2 linked regions of the Homo sapiens genome follow. The protein of the gene in region 1 interacts with the protein of each later gene in a pairwise test. Each region holds a gene or a part of one and is shown on either strand. Other genes may lie near its edges.

What was found.
Region 2: the proteins of METTL21C (region 1) and BCKDK interact in binary tests that used the Homo sapiens proteins (3 or more experiments, as listed by UniProt).

What each region holds. Positions count from the first base shown.
Region 1 is NC_000013.11:102,685,223-102,692,113, forward strand, and holds the end of METTL21C (protein-lysine methyltransferase METTL21C), read right to left. Parts: intron 5,743-6,891; coding exon 5,591-5,742; intron 1,836-5,590; coding exon 1,718-1,835; intron 1,204-1,717; coding exon 809-1,203; 3' UTR 525-808; downstream 1-524. UniProt on the Homo sapiens protein: Protein-lysine N-methyltransferase using S-adenosyl-L-methionine as methyl donor. Mono-di and trimethylates 'Lys-943' of AARS1.
Region 2 is NC_000016.10:31,104,357-31,111,385, reverse strand, and holds the start of BCKDK (branched-chain alpha-ketoacid dehydrogenase kinase isoform a precursor), read right to left. Parts: upstream 3,001-7,029; 5' UTR 2,907-3,000; intron 2,340-2,906; 5' UTR 2,163-2,339; coding exon 1,968-2,162; intron 1,876-1,967; coding exon 1,807-1,875; intron 1,714-1,806; coding exon 1,603-1,713; intron 1,310-1,602; coding exon 1,262-1,309; intron 1,182-1,261; coding exon 1,062-1,181; intron 986-1,061; coding exon 887-985; intron 699-886; coding exon 625-698; intron 296-624; coding exon 167-295; intron 87-166; coding exon 1-86. UniProt on the Homo sapiens protein: Serine/threonine-protein kinase component of macronutrients metabolism.

The sequences.
Region 1 (6,891 bases):
TAATTTCACTGTGGATCGCCTGCAGTTCCAGGGGTTGGTAAACTATGAGCTGTGAACCAAATCTAACTTGAGGCCTGTTTGGGCAGGCTAAGAAGGTTCTTACCTTTTCATAAATGGTTGTAAAAGCAAACAAACAAATATATATATATATATAGCATAGTATGTGACTAGAGAGCCTAAAATACTTACTGTGAAAAAAGCAGACAATACAGAAATTAACTAGAAATTATTAAGATAATTGACACAGAGGGAGACTCTTTGTAAATTATCTTAAGAAGTTCTTAAGACAACATTGTTCTCATTCCGGCAGTTTTATTTTTCACTTTTAATCAACTTTAAGCCTATTAACTGTTTTCTATCATTCAATATCCTCTTTTTGCTGCAGTTAAAAATCTGCAAAAGTAGATTCTTCAAACTAAGATATAGTGACTCTGTCAAGCCCAGTTTCAAAAAGCATGTGACAAGACTATATTGCCAAGTTTAAACATATGCTCTATAGCAGAAATAGGGAAGAAATTCACTTATTACTTTATCCATGTAAGATTTATTAAACATGTAACTTCGTTGGAACCAACAAAGCTACTTTCATGTTTTTATGTTGTTCTTTTTAGATATTTAGATTAACCAGATAATCTTAAATTATCTTAGAAATTAGAAAGTTTCTGCAGTATTGTTACATTTGTTCCAAGTATACAAGTTGTTTCTATGCACTACCTTCTCAATCCTGTGAAAGAAGTCTATTACCAAAGCAATTTCTAACACATTGCTCAAAAGACACAGTAACGTTGTGAAAGGCATTTTGTTGGATTTAGTCCCATTTTAGTATCCCCTTAAAAAGTTTGACTGATGACTCTGGATATTCAGCCAACAGTGTTGTGTCAAAAACTTGCTTGAATTTATCTAAAAATTCATAGTCGGTGCTGAACCTGAATTTGTTTGCCCAAAGCAGCACCGTCCCTGGCTGGGAAAGGTACACCATGGTGGTGAGCAGCTTGTCCAGGAAGTAGTGATGGTAGACCACATCTGAGGCTAGGACGTAATCATAGTAAAAAGCTGACTTGGGAAAGTTTTTGTCCAGGTCTTCCCCCCATACCAGTTCTTTCACTTCAGGCAGATGTGCTGTACATTGTAGTGTGTTTTTTAAAAGATTGTATTGAAGGTTTCCCAGGACATCAGGCAAATCTGTTGCTGTGACTTGAGCTCCTAAGAGAAAAAGAAAACAATGACCTGGAAACATCTGGGCAGTCACAGTGTACATATACCCAGGGAGAAACACAAGAAACAACTGGATTCCTTAGCCTTGGCTCTATTGGTGGGTGGGCTGGACATGTTTGACCTAATGTGGGCTGGCTAATTCTTGTGGGTGGTCCGTCCCGTGCACTGTAAGATGGTGAGCAGCCTCCCTGGCCTCCAACCACCTGATGTCAGTAGCTCCCCCACCTCACCTCACCTGTGGGATTGACAACAGAGATTCAGAGTCATGCCTCTGGACTCAACTTCGTCCCATGGAAACTGGTTGATTGGAGTTTATTAACCTCTCTGAGACTCAATGATCTCTGTAGATAACAGCAGTAATTCCTGCCGCATGACATTTTGGGGAGAGTCACTGAGTGAAGTTAGGGCCAGGCACCTAAACCACAGCCTGTCATAGAGTAAGCACTTGCTATTGTTGTTACAGTAAAGATCTGGATACTAGGTCAGGAATAAACAAACAAACCTAAAATACTGGCCACAATGGAAACAAGGCCTGGTCCGGCACCAATTTCAAGTATTTTTGCATCTTGGAAATTCAATTCCTCGGCATGTTCCTCCAAGTATTGACACAAAGCCATAGCCTAAAAAATAATTATAACTTTTCATGTGGGCATTGGAACATTGGAAACCAGTAGCAACCCTTTCTGGCACCCAAATTTAAATACTAAAAGACATGTTATTACATATGTTCAGTTTATATTCATAAGAACCCAAATGTACACTCAATGCCATATTTAGACCTCTGAAATAAAGAAGTTATAATAAATTGCATCTCAGGAACTGGGGAAAAAGATTTGTTAAATTGCCTCCTAAATCTCCAAAGAATAGGAAGAACAGTAGATCAGCTTAGCTCTTTCAAATCAGGGCAATGTTGGGCTAAAAGAACAGCAACTCCTTCCACTGGTTTAATCATGTTGGTCTCCAACTGCTTTAGGAATGTTGTTTTATGTTAGAATTCTTTCTTGTAAGAGAGTTTTTTAAATTATAGAAGTAATTTTTTAAAATGTCAATTTATAAACTTGAACACCTCTTTCCTGACTCCTTTACCAAAATTCAGGTTGGCGAGCACTTTGCCGTATTGAGCGACGGGTTAGTGACTTTTTTTAAAGTGGTTCTTCTAAGAAACAGACAGTTCAGAAACTGCTTCTCAGACTTCAGTGTGCAAACAGATTCCCTGGATAGCTTGTTAAAGATGCAGATCCTCATTCAGTAGGTCGAGAGTGGGGCTCAAGATCCTGCACGTCTAAACAAGCCCTGACATGATGCTCATCTGCTGGCCCATGTACCCACTTTGAGTAGTAGCAAGCAGATTTTTTTAAATGTTTTATATATCAACAAATATTGTTAGTTTTTTATACAGGAAATCAAACTTCCCTTTCTTCTTTATTCGTTCTCTTCTCCCTCCACCTTCCTCTAACCTTTCCACAAAGAGTAAAGGGTATTTGATTTGCATTGATTGCTGAGGTGTTTACGTGTATGGCAATGAGGCATCAACTAGCAGTGCCCTTGATTGGAGAGATTAGGAAGAGTTATGAGAAGAAATGACAAAAAGTTACTTAAATTTGAGTATAAATAGCCCAGCGTGAGGAACGTGAACACTGAGATTTAAAAAACAATGAACTCTATAATTTACTTATACATTTAGGCCCTAGCTAAAGATATGCCCCCATCTTCCTCTGGACTCTACTTTCTATTTGGGGCCCAGTTTGGAGTGGGGGCAGCCAGGATGATTGGAGACGTGTCACTCTTAGGATTACCAGTGGTAGGTTTGGTAGCCAACCTGACCCTGTACGTCACTCCATTTCATCCTCATCTGTTCATATTGAACTGCCACGGGCAAAGATGAATATGACGCAGTCACCTCTACTGTCTGGGAACTCAGTGGTGGGGCTTAGGGGCCATGTCAGCCAATTACAAACTGAATTCTGGGGAGGTAAGTGCTGTAGAGGAGGCAGACAGCTGGTTGAAGGGAGAGGGGTCACCACAGAGCCGCCGAGGAGTCTGGGCCGACTTCATGGGGCCGGGGAGAAGCCAGCTGGTGTGGAAGGCCAGGGCGGTGGGTAAAATAGCAACATGGTGTGACATAAATAGCACCAACTGCAGCACGCTGCAGGGAGCTCCAGAGCTTAGAAGGGAAGTTTTGAAGAAAGGAGTTCTTTGGTCCTTAAGGAGAGAAGAGAAGTATTTGCTGTGGGGGCTGGGAGGAGGGGGTCAATGTCAGGAAAAGAGTGTCACCTAGAGCCATTCAGAGGGCAGCTCTGAGGAACTTCCTGGAGATGGCTGCAGGGGTCCTTCCTGGTGCCCTGCCCTGTGAGGGGCTGGCCGCAGGGTGTCATGCGGAGACAAAGCTTTTCTCAGGGACAGCTGTGTCTTTTGACATTGCAAACATTCCCCCGCCAGCCCCTTGTCCTGTTAGCAAACTCTGAAGAGATCTTTTCACAGAGTTGCACCTGAAGTCGCACAGGAAAAGGGCGCCTTCCCACTCTAGATGCCCTTCTTGTGCAGCTTTCAGGAAGCAGGTTTCATGAGAGGCTAGTGTTTGGTGCATGAGTGATACCTTGTTCAGAATAAAACAGGGGGACAAATATTCTTTTTTCAATTTCTGATCTTTTTTTTAAAATTATTATTTTTAAAAGGGAGATGGGGTCTCACTATGTTGCCCAGGCTGGTCTCAAACTCCTGAGCTCAAGCGATCCTCTTGCCTCGGCTTCTGAAAGTGCTGGGATTACAGGCATAAGCCACATGCCCGGCCTCTGATCTCTTACTATACCACTTTCTCGCTACACCACTGCTGTCGTCTATTTGCTGAATGTGTTACAATAGGAAGCTGTGAGTAGTTTGGTGATTTTCAAACTCGTTTTTAAGGCAAAGAAAAGCCTTTAGTTGAAGGAAATTATATGCATAAGGTGTAAAAATAGAGCTCCCTGTTTGGGAGTGAGTGAAGGTCGACACCTAAGAGCCTGAAGCCCTTTGGCTACCCTTCTCCCCATCCTGTGCCATCGCCAGATGACCTGAGGGAGCCCCGTGGAACCACTAACCAGGAATACTCAATGTGGGCACCCTGGCCCAGCAGATAGGCATCACCCCGGAATGTGTAAGACCTCCTGAATCAGAATCCGCATTTTAACAAGACTGCAGATTGAGAACTTCTGATCTGGAGCCTTTCTAATCACTGACAACATCCGCAGTGGGAAAAGCAACCACACTGGCTCTGAGGGCCACTGTCTATCTTGGCTCTGCCCTGCACCCCAGTCGGGAGCTTTACCACGCCAGCAGACTGGCCTGCGTTCCCATTTCCTCAGCTGAAAGGTGGAAAGAATATTACATTAATGAGGACAGTTCATGTGAGCTTACGCTAGGACTTCATTTAATCTCACAATCTGAAATTAATTCTCACAATTCTGACAACCACGTCAGGAGCACTGTAGACATTACGACCACCCTAGGTTTTAAATATGGAAATGAAGGCAAACGGAGGTGAGGTGAACATTTGTGACTACCCAGCCCTGAAATGGCAGCTTTTCTGACTAAAAATCCAGAGGACTGCCCCCATTTCAGCGCCATCCTCTCAGGGCTGTGGCAGGGGTGACATGCCACAAAGTCATGCTTCCTAAACATCCCTACCGACACAGCCCCCATGGAAAAGAGATGAATGGCTGGCCGGCCGGGCGTGGTGGTTCACGCTTGTAATCCCAGCACTTTGGGAGGCCGAGGTGGGCAGATCACTTGAGGTCAGGAGTTCAAGACCAGCCTGGCCAATATGGTGAAACCCTATCTCTACTAAAAATACAAAAATTAGCCAGGCATGGTGGCGCGCACCTGTAGTCCCAGCTACTCGGGAGGCTGAGGCAGGAGAATTGCATGAACCCAGGAGGTGGAGGTTGCAGTGAGCCAAGATCGTGTCACTGCACTCCAGCCTGGGTAACAGAGTGAGACTCCATCTCAAAAGAAAAAAAAAAAAAAGAGAGAGATGAATGGCTGAGGGTCGATGGGCGTGGCTCGGAGATGCCCACTGCAAAATCTAAACTCTAAATCCCTGGGTTTATTCTTAACAATTTATACAAGTTTTGCATTCACTTCCTCATATAGCTGAGTTTATTTAATATAAAAATAATGTTTCGAGAAACAGAGCTTGAAGCAAAACCAGTGTTTCTGAAAGAAACACTGTTTTTGCTGATCCCAAGCACTCCACCAACACCCTCCAGGGGGCAAGCAACTGAACCTCAAATTGAGAAGCAGGATATGAAGGAACTTGACAAATTGTCCAAGGCAACTCTGAAGTACGGAATTGTTATCTCCAGAAATCCTGACATCACAAATATGACAGTTCTCTCACCCCTGGCCACACCACCGCTCCGTAACTCTCTATGGATTCCTGGATGACAATCTCCTTTCCTGCAAACCGATAATGCTCCTGAGTGTAGCTGGCGTAATCTGTAGGAACAAATTTCTGGAGGCTATGAAGAGATGGTTCTATCTTGTTGGATTCTGTGAAGCAGAAAAATAAAATGGAGTTCATGATTTGTTCAAATCCAGTGCAAAGACACACTTGGTATAATTGCTAAGATGGCATTAGATTGAATGACCTTTACATAAAGAGAAGGGATGATGCTATCAAGGAGAACGGCTGCAAATTGGCACAAAATTGAATTATATGGGGTGATGGGGACATGAAATTTGGATGTGACAGTTTTATCAGATGACAAAATGCCAAAGAATGCTCTGGGCCTTTTCTTTATTTAGGGGAGGACAGAAGATGTGTGGATCGGTCCCCACCCTAAATTTTGCTGATGGAAAAATGGCGAACTTACCAGCAAAATTGCACGAATGAGCTGTCTGGATACAGAGGAACTAGGTAAACACAAACCTGCCTTTTTTTTTTTTTCTTTTTGAGACAGAGTCTCACTCTGTTGCCCAGGCTAGAGTGCAGTGGTGTAATCTCAGCTCACCGCAACCTCTGCTTCCCGGGTTCAAGTGATTCTCCTGCCTCAGCCTCCTGAGTAACTGGGATTACAGGCGTGCGCCACCACGCCCAGCTAATTTTTGTATTTTTAGTAGACACGGGGTTTCACCATGTTGGTCAGGCTGGTCTCAAACTCCTGACCTCGTGATCCACTCGTCCTGGCCTCCCAAAGTGCTGGGATTACAGGCGTGAGCCACCACGCCCCGCCAGACCTGCCTATTTTTAGGTCTTGAAGTGAAGTAACATTCCCACGTGTTGGCTGGAGCATGTTCCTTCAATCTTTCCTACAATTGCTGTTCAAAAGGTAGAGGCCCAGCCAGCCCCACAGCCCTGGGGGAGGATGTCAGCTGAGCTCTGGCTATTAAGTTACTATTGCTTTAAATACTCCTTTAAACCCATGACCCATCTAGCAGCTCTCAGATGGCATATAAAATGAGAGGAAAAGAGCACCTGATCGGGCTGACATCAAGAGATCACAAGTGTTTGCAGGTTTTCCAGAGTGTTTAGGAATAAAAGAGCAGTGAGTCAAAGTGTGTGGAAGAAGGAGCAGGAGCAGAGGAAAAGGTGTTGGTCCCAGCGGGTGGGAAAGAATTAACAGTGCGGAGAGTAGGGGGGAGGAAGGTCAGTTTTGTTTGCACGAAACCTGCCTTTGTGGCCTGGGATATGACTGTAAA
Region 2 (7,029 bases), on another chromosome or scaffold:
TGATCAGATCGACATCATTGTTGGCGATGGTGATGACCACATCTGGGACATTGTAGGGAGTGTCTAGGTGACTCTCCATTGTGGCTCTATGCAGAGGGGAAAGACCAGTAGGTACAAGCACCCCGGTTCCTGTCCGCCCCCAAGCCAGCACATCAAGCCACCCCACCTCATGGCATTCTTGAGCAGCTCCGGCAGGATGTAGTCCAGTGGCATAGGGATGAAGGGGAACCGGGCAGCCACATGGCCATTGATGCGGACACGGGGCGCATTGCCATACTTGTGCTCACACAGGCGTCTGCGGATAGGAGCGAGGGTTCAGTCAGGGGCCCCTCCACCAGTGGTTTGCAACTGGAAACAATTCTGCCCCCCTAAGTAACATATGGCAATGTGCAGAGACATTTTTGTTTGTCACAACTAGGCAGTACTGCTGGCGCCAGGGATGCTGCTGAACTTCCTAACGTGCACGGGGCAGCCCCTGTGACAAAGAATTATCTGGCTGGAAATGTCAATAGTGCCATGGTTGAGAAACCCTGCTCCCCGCAGATCATGCCCCGGGCAAGGGCTCAGACCCAAGCCTTCCCTGCCCCAGATGTCTGCCCACCCCCTGAGCCATTCTTGCCTCACCTGGCAAAGTCCACCCACTTCTCAATAATCTTCTTTGGTGAGAGACGAGTACAGATGATGCCGACAAAGTCAGGCTGGCCGGAGAAAGGAGGTCAGGACTACCCACGCCCCTAGCCCCACCCCAAGATGCTGGCAACTTCGGAACTGCCCCAAAGCACCAGCCCCACAGCCTCAGCCCCCAGGCCCTTGACCCGGATCCCCAGCCCAGTCTCCTCTGTCTCACTTAATGTTCCCAGGTGGGTCTCAGGTCCCAGAGCCCCACCTTGTCCTCATGCAGCGCCAGGTGATGCGTGGCCAACATGCGGATTCCAAGCCTCGAAGTCAGCGTCTTGTCCAAGAAGTAGCGGACGAGCTTTTCATCCTGTAAAGAGTGAGGTCTCAGAATCCCGTGCCCTTCCCACCCCCAGCAGGCCCGGCCTCTCCTTTGCTGCCCCAACCTCTATGTGCTTCCGGCTCTCACGTAGGCCCTCTGCCAAGAGGGTCACCACATCCTTGTGGTCATCCAGCAGCTGTCGCACCAGCTGGCAGTACTGGGCCTCGTCCGCCTGGTCCTTGATCTGCAGGTCACAGAGTCATGAGGAAGGGTGGTCCAAGCCCAACCTCTCAGCCCCTCACCCTGCTCTGGCCCAGCACTCACCGGAGGGAAGTCTGTCAGCTTCTGGAAGGCACGGATATATAGCTCATGCTGCAAGGAAGAGGTGTGGGAATTCACAAAGCCGCATGGGCACTGAGCAGAGAACAGCCACCCCCACCTACCCATGGGGATCACCACCCAGCTGGTCGACCACGTGATCAAACCCCCACTTCGACCCTTCCAGGCTCCGTGAATACACACCTTTGGCTTCTGAAGGCCTGGGGTTGAATCCTGTGTGGCCCTGACACCTTTAGGCAAGCAATCGTCTGCCACTCTGGGCCCCAGACTCCCCACTTGCCCCCGGGGCAGGGTGGCCCGCTGACCTAAGGTCCTCTCTACCTTACCACGTGCAGTATGGTGGGGTTGCAGCCAATGATGAAAGGAAGGCAGCGGAAGCCCTTGATGCGGTGAGCAATCCTCACTGGAAGTTCTTGCTGCAGGTACCGAGCACTTTTCTGGGAGAAAATGAGAAGGGAAGGCGGGGCTGGAGCCTGAGTGTCTGGGAGAGCTCCAGGATCCACGAGGAAAATAGAGGGCGTGAATCTTACCAGAAGGTGGCTGCCGTCCTGAGAGCGGCCAGCGTAGAGCATCATGGTGGGCGTTAGGCGGACTGAGGGCTAGAGAGGGAGAGAGGCCTTGAGCAGAGAACCCCCAACACTCTCCCTCCCGCCTACATCCCGGACCCTGGGCTGGCTGCCCCCTTGCGCACCTTCTCCGCTGCCGCGTCGATGGCCGACTGGTTGTAAAAGGAGGTGACGGTCTTGGAGCGCTCCCGAGCCATCTCCACGTGGTGTGTGTCGGTGGCCGACGTCGAGCGGGCCCGGAGCGCGAGTGCGGGTCCCAGGAGGGGCCGGAGCGGAAGCCCGCCCCCGGGACCGCTCCTCAGCACCGACGCCAGGATCATCGTCTTGCTCCTTTCAGACCCGGTGGCCGCTAGGACTGAGGATCCGCTAGGACTGAGGACCCAGGCGACCCAAAATGGGGCAAGGGGGTGTGGGTGGGTAGGGGCTCTTCTCCGACTTCAGGGACCAGGGTGCGTCGAGGATGCTGACAGGCTCAGCCCGCGGAGAGCAGCTCCCATCTACCGGGGCGGGGAAGAGGAAGTTGTAAGGATCCGAATCCACAGAACCCGCACCATCTCTCCACCTGTGCATCGGTCTCCCCAGACCCGGGCGACCTCTCCCCACCACTCCCACCGTCTCCCCAGATGCACACAGGCCGCGCCCAAAGGACCTAGCCTCCCGGGGGCTTCTATTCCCCAACCCGAGGCTCTACTGGCGGTGGGAGGGCTGTCGGGGGAGGAGCCCCTCAGACCCTTCCAGCCCGAAAACCTCGCCCCAGCGCCCCGGGGTCCCGGGTACCCTTCTCAGGGGGCGGGGCTGCCCCTGCCTGCCCAGCGCCTTCAAACCCGGGCCCTGGGAGCGCGGCCAGCGAACGTGCGACACCAGCCCTGGGCCCCTGGGGCCGGCTTGGGAGGGTGCGGCACGGAGTCCCCAGCGGGACCCCCCACGCGGGTCACTTGGTTCGGCCCGGATGCCCCCCATATGGTAGATGCCAGCCCCGTCTGCGCGCCCGCGCTGTGATGGAGGCTGCGGACGTGCGCCGCGGGGCCTCCGCGGACTGAGTAGGCTGGGGTCGCCCCACTTACCGCGGGGCCGGAGCCAGGGCCCGGGTCCCAGCGGAAGGGCTCGAACAGTCCACTCGCCAGGCGCCCAGCCGCCTGCGCCCTCCGCCGCCGTGACGTCGCGTGGGCGGCAGCGCCCGCTGGGTCCTGGGAGTTGTAGTTTGGTCTGAGGACGTGCCGTCCCGGGCGCCCGCGCATCCAGGCCACGCCCTTGCTCCCGGACCCCAAACAGCACCGCTTCCTCCACACGGCTCTCGAGGCTCTCCGTGTCCCTCCCAGCCTCTATCTCCTGCTCTATGAAACGGGCTCCCTGGGAGCTGGAAGATCTTAGATGTAAAGCGCACAGATCACGCCCTACCTGACTCCTTCTCGGAGCTCTTGTCCTCCTTCCAGTTCTTGGTTCATTTATGGGTAACCAGGCTTCAAACCCCAGCTCGACCCCTTAATATCTGGAGCAAGTTATTTAACTGCTCAGTGCTTGGTAAGATGAAGAGATATCATCAGTTTTGGGGTTGTGTGGATTACATGAATTTATATGAGTGCCTAGAACAGTGCCAGGCGTGGAATTAGCACTATATAAGGGTTAGGCATTATTATTATTCACTCATGCCTGCAGATAATGCAAGTCGCTGACTGGGTGTCTTTTCTGCACCAGGAGAGGAGATTGGGCAGTGAGTTGAATAGATCTTTCCGTGCCCTGCATAAGAAAACAGTTTCAGTATCATTGGCTGTGATGAGGACTTTCAGAGGAGGCTGCGGGAGCCTCAGATAGAAACTGAGACAGCTGTGTAGGTGCAGCCTGAGTAGGACTTGCAAGGGAGCGGGGTGGGAAGGGTGTGTGGCAGGACAGACAACAGCCCAGATGGTCTGAGGATATGGCTGGAGCCATATGGGATCTGGGAAGGAGAGGGGCGGCAGCAGAGAGCGAAGGATAAGTCTGCATTTGTCCTAGGGTAGTTAGGAACTACTGAAGGGTTTTAACTGGTGGGCTCTCCTCCTTAGACAGAACCCCTTGTCTGCAGTGATTTAGAGTGGGGCGTTTGGTGAGACCAAAGGCAGAGAAACCAATAAGAAGACAATTACTTTAGGCCAGGCGCAGTGGCTCAGGCCTGTAATCCCAGCACTTTGAGAGGACGAGGTGGGCGGATCTCAGGAGTTCCAGACCAGCCTGGCCAACTTGGCAAAACCCCGTCTCTACTAAAAATACAAAAATCAGCCGGGTGTTGTGGCTGGCGCCTGTAATCCCAGCTACTCGCGAGGCTGAGGCAGGAGAATCGCTCGAACCCGGGAGGAGGAGGTTGCAGTGAGCCGATATCCCGCCACTGCTCTCCATCCTGGGCAACAAGAGCAAAACTCCGTTGCAAAAAAAAAAAAAATTATCCAGGCAGGAGGCGCTGGAAGGGACACGTTTCAGTGTGTGCACGTGCATATGTGTGTAGTGTGTATTTGTACTAATTGCAATTTTCTTTACCATGGTTATATATTTCCTAAATATGTTCAATAAAAAGTGCTAAGTGAAGCAAGTGACATCTTTGGAGGCTATCTTTATTTATTTATTTGGAGATGGGGTCTCGCTCTGTTGCTCAAGCTGTAATACAGTCGCTCCATAGTAGCTCACTGCAGCCTCCGACTTAAATGATCCTCCCACCTCAGCCTCTCAAGTAGCCGAGACTGTAAGTGTGCACCACTACCCCCAGGGTGATTTTTTCCCCCTCAGGCAATCCTTTTGCCACAGCCTCCCAAAGTGCTGGGATTACAGACGTAACCCACCGTGCCTGGCCTATTTTTCTTAGAGCCGGGGTCTCGCTATGTTGCCCAGGCTGGTCTCAAATTCCTGGCCTCAGCCTCCTGAGTTGTTGGGGTTACAGGAGTGAGCCACTGGGCCTGGCGGCTGTCTTTAAACTTGGAGGTTAGCCAGGTGCAGTGGCTCATGCTTGTAATCCCAGCACTTTGGGAGGCCAAGGCGGGCAGATGACCTGAGGTCAGGAGTTCGAGACCAGCCTGGCCAATATGGTGAAACTCTGTCTTTACTAAAAATACAAAAATTAGCCGGATGTGGTGGCATGCACCTGTAATCCCTGCTACTCGGGAGGCTGAGGCAGAAGAATCGCTTGAACCCGGGAGGCGGAGGTTGCAGTGAGCCAAGATCGTGCCAATGCACTCCAGCCTGGGCGACAGAGAGAGGCTCCGTCTCAAAAATAAATAAATAAATAATAAATAATAAACTTGAAGGTGAAAAAAATAAATAATAAATAATAATAAATATAAACTTGGAGGGAGGACGCCTCACCGTGACTGGCCTGCCTGAGCAATTGGGGGCAGACCACGGGAAAGGGGCGCCCTGCATCTCTGGGTTTCCTCTTTGACCCCCACCCACACCATTCCCACCCGTTCTTTCCCAACGTCCTGGAGTACAGCCAGGCGGCGGCAGCCCCAAGGCAGCCACGGCTGGAGCCCGTGGTAAAAGGGAGCGGGAAGGGTGCTCCTGGCGGGGAGGACAGGCTGCGCAAAGCAGCAAAGGACTGGCAGTGGTCTGTGCGCCAGAATCTGGCGCTCACGTGGCCGCGGCGTGGACAGGAGCCGCAGGCGGAGGAGGCTGCGGCTGCCACCGAGGTGGAGAGGTCTGGCACAGGCCTCACCCCATTTGACCCCGCTCGCTAGGCCCCGGCTCGGCCTGGACTCGCTGCTGCCCCCGGCGGCGGAGGTTGGACATGCACCTCGCGACCCCCTTTTCAGAATACTGTATACAGGTCAGGCGGCTTTCTTTTTTTTTTTTTTTATTTTTTTATTTTTTTTTTTTTATTTTTATTTTTTATTGATCATTCTTGGGTGTTTCTCGCAGAGGGGGATTTGGCAGGGTCATAGGACAATAGTGGAGGGAAGGTCAGCAGATAAACAAGTGAACAAAGGTCTCTGGTTTTCCTAGGCAGAGGACCCTGCGGCCTTCCGCAGTGTTTGTGTCCCTGGGTACTTAAGATTAGGGAGTGGTGATGACTCTTAACGAGCATGCTGCCTTCAAGCAGGGCAGAGGGGCTCCTCACTTCCCAGTAGGGGCGGCCGGGCAGAGGCGCCCCTCACCTCCCGGACGGGGCGGCTGGCCAGGCGGGGGGCTGATCCCCCCACCTCCCTCCCGGACGGGGCGGCTGGTCGGGCGGGGGGCTGACCCCCCCCACTTCCCTCCCGGACGGGGCGGCTGGCCGGGCGGGGGGCTGACCCCCCCACCTCCCTCCCGGACGGGGCGGCTGGCCGGGCAGAGGGGCTCCTCACTTCCCAGTAGGGGCGGCCGGGCAGAGGCGCCCCTCACCTCCCGGACGGGGCGGCTGGCCAGGCGGGGGGCTGATCCCCCCACCTCCCTCCCGGACTGGGCGGCTGGCCGGGCGGGGGGCTGATCCCCCCACCTCCCTCCCGGACTGGGCGGCTGGCCGGGCGGGGGGCTGACCCCCCCACCTCCCTCCCGGACGGGGCGGCTGGCTGGGCAGAGGGGTCCTCACTTCCCAGTAGGGGCGGCGGGGCAGAGGCGCCCCTCACCTCCCGGACGGGGCGGCCGGCCGGGCGGGGGGCTGACCCCCCCACCTCCCTCCCGGACGGGGCGGCTGGCCGGGCAGAGGGGCTCCTCACTTCCCAGTAGGGGCGGCCGGGCAGAGGCACCCCTCACCTCCCGGACGGGGCGGCTGGCCGGGCGGGGGGCTGACCCCCACCACCTCCCTCCCGGACGGGGCGGCTGGCCGGGCAGGGGGCTGACCCCCCCTCCCCCCTCCCGGACGGGGCGGCTGGCCGGGCAGAGGGGCTCCTCACTTCCCAGTAGGGGCGGCCGGGCAGAGGCGCCCCTCACCTCCCGGACTGGGCGGCTGGCCGGGCGGGGGGCTGACCCCCCCACCTCCCTCCTGGACGGGGCGACTGGCCAGGCAGAGGGGCTCCTCACTTCCCAGTAGGGGCGGCCGGGCAGAGGAGCCCCTCACCTCCCGGATGGGGCGGCTGGCCGGGCGGGGGGCTGACCCCCCCCACCTCCCTCCCGGACGGGGTGGCTGCCGGGCGGAGACGCTCCTCACTTCCCAGACGGGGTGGCTGCCGGACGGAGGGGCTCCTCACTTCTCAGACGGGGCGGTTGCCAGGCAGAGGGTTTCCTCACTTCTCAGACGGGGCGGCC